Linked DNA regions of Homo sapiens: region 1 is linked to region 2. The links come from fine-mapping of genetic effects on plasma protein levels. Region 2 holds a variant in brackets. A gene starts in the other region. All regions are shown on their forward strands. Region 1 holds the start of FGFR4 (fibroblast growth factor receptor 4). Region 2 overlaps SDC3 (syndecan 3).

Evidence for each region. A credible set is the group of variants that fine-mapping cannot tell apart. PIP is the chance, under the fine-mapping model, that this variant and not a neighbour inherited with it causes the effect. The UK Biobank Pharma Proteomics Project read protein levels with antibody pairs (Olink). The fine-mapping took linkage between variants from a reference panel, not from the people measured, so its PIPs are less certain.
Region 1: it holds the start of FGFR4, and the variant in region 2 is the best candidate, but not a certain one, in a credible set for the plasma level of the FGFR4 protein (UK Biobank, PIP 0.51).

What each region holds. Positions count from the first base shown.
Region 1 is chr5:177,085,149-177,088,053 of GRCh38, forward strand. It overlaps FGFR4 (fibroblast growth factor receptor 4), which reads left to right and starts at 1,767. Exons shown (of 18, transcript NM_213647.3): 1 at 1,767-1,929. RefSeq lists silencers at 1,378-1,427, 1,678-2,137, a promoter at 1,648-1,867 and an enhancer at 1,833-2,283.
Region 2 is chr1:30,887,934-30,890,838 of GRCh38, forward strand. All of the region lies in intron 1 of SDC3 (syndecan 3), which reads right to left. Among named protein-coding and RNA genes, the nearest start is that of SDC3, 19 kb to the right of the region's middle. RefSeq lists enhancers at 536-595, 776-835. The variant T/C (reference allele first, on the strand shown) is at 1,444.

The sequences.
Region 1 (2,905 bases), not on the chromosome of region 2:
GCTTAAGAAGAAAAAGAAAAAAACAATTTTAAGTCTCTTTAATGGGCCTTACAGTTATGCAAAGATATGCCACTATCCCTTTGGGAGTGAGGGTGGAAAGAACTAGACTTGCCTGCGTAACAATGAGAAAGGAAGTTGCTTCTTAAGACAGGGTCTACACTAGCTAGAGGGGACAACCAGGACCTGAGCCTCAGACAGGGTCTCGCTCCATAGCCTGTTGCCCAGGCTACAGTGCAGTGGAGCGATCACGGCTCACTGCTGCCTCGACTTCCTGGGCTCAAGCAATCCTCTGGCCTCAGCCTCCCAAGTAGCTGGGACCACAGGTGCACCCAGCCCATTTCCCTTCCTCTCAAGGTGCCTTAAGAGAAGGAGAAGGCTTGAGATTCAGGTGAGGGATGGGCAGAGATCAGAGGCTGCCTGGCCTCCTGGTTTGGCCACAGTCTAGATGCTCAGGAGAGAAGTGCTTACAGGTGAGGCAAACATGAGCCAGGTGGGCACGGAGCTATCTGGGAGCACCTACTGTATGCCAGACACTTGAACTCTAATGGTGAGGTCTGAGGACACAGTTCCTCTACTGAAAAATAGAGACAGGGCAACTATGTTGCCAGGGCTGGCCTCACACTCCTGAATTCAAGCTGTCCTCCTACCTCAGTCTCCTAGTAACTAGAACTACAGGCACCCGTCATTGTGCCCGGCCATTCCACAGCTATTTACATAATTAACTGTTCAGTTACAATTCTGGCAAGCGTGCTGAAGAAATAACAGGTCCTAAATAATTACAGCTAGTATTACAAAGCAAGCGCTGCATGCCAGGCTTACACATACTGCTAACATGTCTACTTTTTGCAACAACCTCTTGTGGGTGAGACTATCATTTGCCTGTTTTACTGAAAGGACAGTGAAGACTGAGGCCTTGTGTGATGGTGCTGAGAGCTGGGCCTATGACGTCCAGCCCTGTAGTCTGTGCTCTGAACCACTTCACCCTGTTTCTTTCTCCATCCTCACAGTAGAGACGTCATCTAAGAGGAGCTTGCAAGTCCAGAGGGCTTCCTGAAGGAAGTGAGCTGAGAATAATATGAAATTAACCAGACCAAGGGCCATTCCAGGAAGAGAGAATGGTACGTGAAACTGCCCAGGAGTAGCAGGGTGGGAGCCAGGAGGCGTGGGTCATGGCAATCTATGTATAAAGAGCTATGGGAATCTATAGGAAAATTTAAGGGAGTGGCTGACACAGTCAGATTTGTGTTGTAAGTATCACTCCGCAGGTTGCGCAGGGAACAAATGAGGGAGCAGAAGGAAGGGGTTCTCCTATCCGCTGCACGGCACTGCGCAGAAGACAGGGGAGCCAGGCATTCCCTGAAGGGTGAAAAGCAAGGAGTAGAGCTGGGTAGTAGACTAGAATTTAGGAGCCTGGCCTGGGGCCTGGGTGGGGCGAAAGAGGCGGAGCCTGAATGGGGTGTGTATAGGGGGGTTGCGTGTAGGGGTGTGTGTATAGGCTGGGGCGGGGTCCCGGGAGTGGGCTGACTGGGTCGGGGGCGGGGCTCTCCAGGTGGGCGGGGATCTTGGCCACCCCTGGCCACACCTCTCTCCGGCTCGAGCTGGTCTAGGCGGGGCGGGCCCGAGGGGGTGTGGCAGGAGGTGGGCGGGCCCGGGTGGGGGGGGGGGGGGCGTGGAAGGAGGGGCGGGCCCGAGCAGGAGGGGGCGGGCCCGAGGGGCGGGGTGGGACAGGAGGTGGGCCGCTCGCGGCCACGCCGCCGTCGCGGGTACATTCCTCGCTCCCGGCCGAGGAGCGCTCGGGCTGTCTGCGGACCCTGCCGCGTGCAGGGGTCGCGGCCGGCTGGAGCTGGGAGTGAGGCGGCGGAGGAGCCAGGTGAGGAGGAGCCAGGTGAGCAGGACCCTGTGCTGGGCGCGGAGTCACGCAGGCTCGAGGTGAGCCGGAACCCTTGTGGGCCCGGGCTGCGCTCCCAGCCGCCAGGGGGCGAGAGGCGGCGGGGCTACGGGGACTGCCCCTCCCGGCGCAGGGGACCTGGGCGTCCGCCGGGCGGCAGGGGGTGGAGGGGGCGGTAAATCAGTAACCCGCAGTGCACACAGGGCCTTTTGTCCCGCTCCGTCCAAAGAGCACCCCGGCCGCGGAGCTGGTTACTCATTGCCCACCGAGGCGGGGGCAGGCTGGCCCTGTGCAGCTACCCTCGGGACCCATTGATTCGCACCTCCCCCCAGGCTGGCCCGGCAAGGGTGGGGGAGGACAAGCGCGCTTGTCCCTGCGGCTGTCTTCGCGCCGGCGGCAGAGATGAGGGACCTGAGGCCCCGAAAAGTTCAGTCACTTAGTGCCCGGGGGCCTCCAGCGCGAGTGCGGGAGGCTGAAGGAGAACCCAGGACTGTCTGATGCCTAAGGCAGGCCCTCCATTCCCACGTGGGGGGTGGTCGGTCAGCGGTCAGCAGCCATGGGTGACTCGACTAAGGACTCTGATATCAGGGCAGCCTGGGGTAGGAATAAACTCCCCGGGCCTCCCCACCCACTCCCAGCCCAAGCTGTGTACCCAAAGAGCTGCCCTCCCTGCCAAGCCGAGCTTGGTAGGGAGTTTTACCAAGGAGGATCCGACTGGATTCGAGAGTTGAGGTGGGCCAGAGACAGCAGTATCTGAGTCAGGTAGAGAAGAGCAATGAGGGGCACAGAGGGATGGGCAAGAGAGCACATGTGCCCAGTTTTGAAAGCCAATGGCTTCAGCGCTCCTGAAGGGGCAGACGGTGTGACCAAAGAGATAGGCAGCGGCAGAGAGGGAGCCCTAGGATGTTGAGCTGGATCCTGCTGGGCACAGGTAGCCATTAAGGGCTTGCAAGCTGGGGGGCATGACATGGCAGACTTGCAGGTTTTTTTGTTTGTTTTTTTATTTTATTTTATTTT
Region 2 (2,905 bases):
CAGCCAGGAGGACTCCAAGTGAGCTGGGAGGAGGGAAGAGAAACAGACACTGATCCCAGCATATTTTGTCACAAAATGTTTATGTAAATTATATGCAAATATGCAGATCAGTGGGCTCCCAGTGGAGCATACATTCTGGCCATTTCTCAACCAGGACTGGAAGAAAGCAGCCTTCACTGAGCACACACTAAGCACTGGACTCTACCTTCTCAGGAGCCAGTGAAATGGGCCTCCTTACTCCACAGAGGCAGAAAGCCCAGGCGACTTGCTAGAGGTCAGTGAGCTCAGCCGGAGAGTCAGGATGGGATTCAGGACTGGAGCAGGGACAGGGAGAGCAGGCAGGGTGGGACGTGGCAGTGGGAAGGGGCTGGAGGAGCACATGGAGGCCCCTAAGAGCAGAAGGATCCTCAGCCTGACCTTGGAATCACTTGAAGCCAGGTGAGGGGGCTCCAGGGACCTCGCCAGCCCTAGAGCTCTGCTGGGCTGACCCCAGCCTCCTCCAGGGAACTGAAGAGAACCTGCTGGAGTCAGCCTGAGCAGGCCCAGACCTTCCAGCTGTCCCGGGAGCCTGCACAGCTCTGACGGCTCCCCAAAGCCCTCCCCACACACATGCTGAGCATACACCCTGGGCACACACAGCACACACACACACATAACTGAAACGGCCCTGTCTGTAAGAATGTGTGTGTGTGTCCAGGCCTCTCCTCCTGAGGAGGCGGGCTGTGGTTCCCCGCACCCTCCTGTTTGCTGGGTTATTTATAACCAGCCCAAACTCACACACAGTGGAGATGCCACTCCCCGCCCCCAGCCTGGAGCAGTCCCACTGGCTTCTCGGCTGCTCCTCTTCTAGGGACAGAACAAGCCAGACTCAGATGATCTGAGCCACAGCAGCCTTGGAAGTCACCACCACCATCACCCAGATGGGAAACTGAGGCACAGAGCAAGGCATCAGACAAAAAGGCTGGAAGAAGGGTTGGCAGGGCCCTCAAAAGCCAGCCTAGGGCCACACTTGCCCCAGGACTGTCTCCAACCCAAGATGAGGCTCTGTGGGACACAGTGGGGTGAGAAAGGGAGGGAAGGAGGGAGCAGACATGTCCAAGCCCTCACCCTCCCCTCCAGAGGCCTGGGAGACACAGCAGGGACTCTGATGCTCGACTATGTGGCTCCAAATCCCAGGACAGAACTTCACCAGCTACGCGACTCTGGGCAAGTCAGTCTACCTCTCTGAGCCTCAGTTTCTTCACCTACTAAATGGGTATAGTAATAGGACTGACCTCAGGGGTTGGGAGGATTAAATAAGATGATCCAAACAAGGCTCTCAGCCCACAGTCTGACTACTTCTCAGCCTAGTGACCCAGAACAAGCTGCTTGGCTTGAGCCTCAGTTCCACCATCTGCAAATGGAACAATGATATGGCCCAGAGGGTCATAAGGACTGAAGCAC[T/C]GGTTCCCACACACAGTACGTGGTCAGCACGTACAAATTCCATCCTCTTTTCCTCCATTCCCGGGGGCCCCATGGTTGCTGACCACCCCCAGATCCTCTCCTTGATGCTCCCTGTCTCCCGTCTCTGAGCATCTACTATGTGCTGAGCTTGGTGGGGGTTGTTCTAGATATTATGCCATGGAATCTTCTAAACAACTCTTCAAGGGATAAATTCCCTTCCCAGCTCTGCAGTGGGCCTTCTGCCTTGTTGAATATAGATGTTCTATAAATACTTGAGGGATGAATGGATGCAAGAATGAATGTGATCAAAAAGTCAGATAATCACAAGCGTTGGCGAGGACGTGGGGAAATCGGAACCCTCACACACCACTGGTGGGAATGTAAAACAGCACAGCCGCTTTAGGAAAGAGGCTGGCAGTCTCTCAAAATGTTAAATGGAGTTTCCATATGACTCAGTAATTCTACTCCTAGGGTATATATTCAAGAAAAATGAAAATATATATGTCCACACACCAAAAAAGGTAGCATTATTCATAATAGCCAAAAGATTGAAACCACCCAAATATCCATCAGCTGATGAATGAATAAATAAAATGTGGTATGTTCATACAATGGAATATTATTTGGCAAAAGAAAAAAAAACTAATACTGAGGCTGGGCATGGTGGCTCACACCTGTAATCCCAACACTTTGGGAGGCCGAGGTGGGAGGGTCACCTGAGGTCAGGAGTTCGAGACCAGCCTGGGCAACATGGTAAAACCCCATCTCTACTAAAAATACAAAATTAGCAAGGTGTGGTGGCACGTGCCTGTAGTCCCAGCTATTTGGGAGGCTGAGGCAGAATTGCTTGAACCTGGGAGGCAGAGGTTGCAGGGAGCCGAGATCATGCCATTGCACCCCAGCCTGGGCAACAAGAGCAAAACTCAGTCTCAAAAATAAACAAATGAACTAATACTGATACTACAGTGTGGATGAACCTTGAAACCATTATGTTAAGTGAAAGAAATTGGCCACAAAAGACCACATATTATATTATTCCATTTATATGAAATGTCTGGGATAGGCAAATCCATACAGACAGAAAATAGATTAGTGACAGCCTATGCCTGCAGGGATTGTGGAGAAACAAGGAGCAACTGTTAATGGGTACAGCGTTTCTTTCTGGGGTGATAAAAACGTTCTAAATTTAGTGATGGCTTTACAACTATGTAAATATACTAAAAACCACTGAATTAAATACTTTAGATGGGCAAGATGTATATGAGTTATATATCAATAAAGCTGTTGTTTCAAAAATAACAATGAATATGAGACTGAGGCTCAGAGAGGACAAGAAACTTGCCCAGGGTCACACAGCAGAGCCTGGACTCAAGTTCAGAGAAGCCCAGCATTCCTTATCCTGACAACACGCTTGTCTTGGCCCTGCTCACCTCCTCTCCCATTTGAACATCTTCTTACCAAG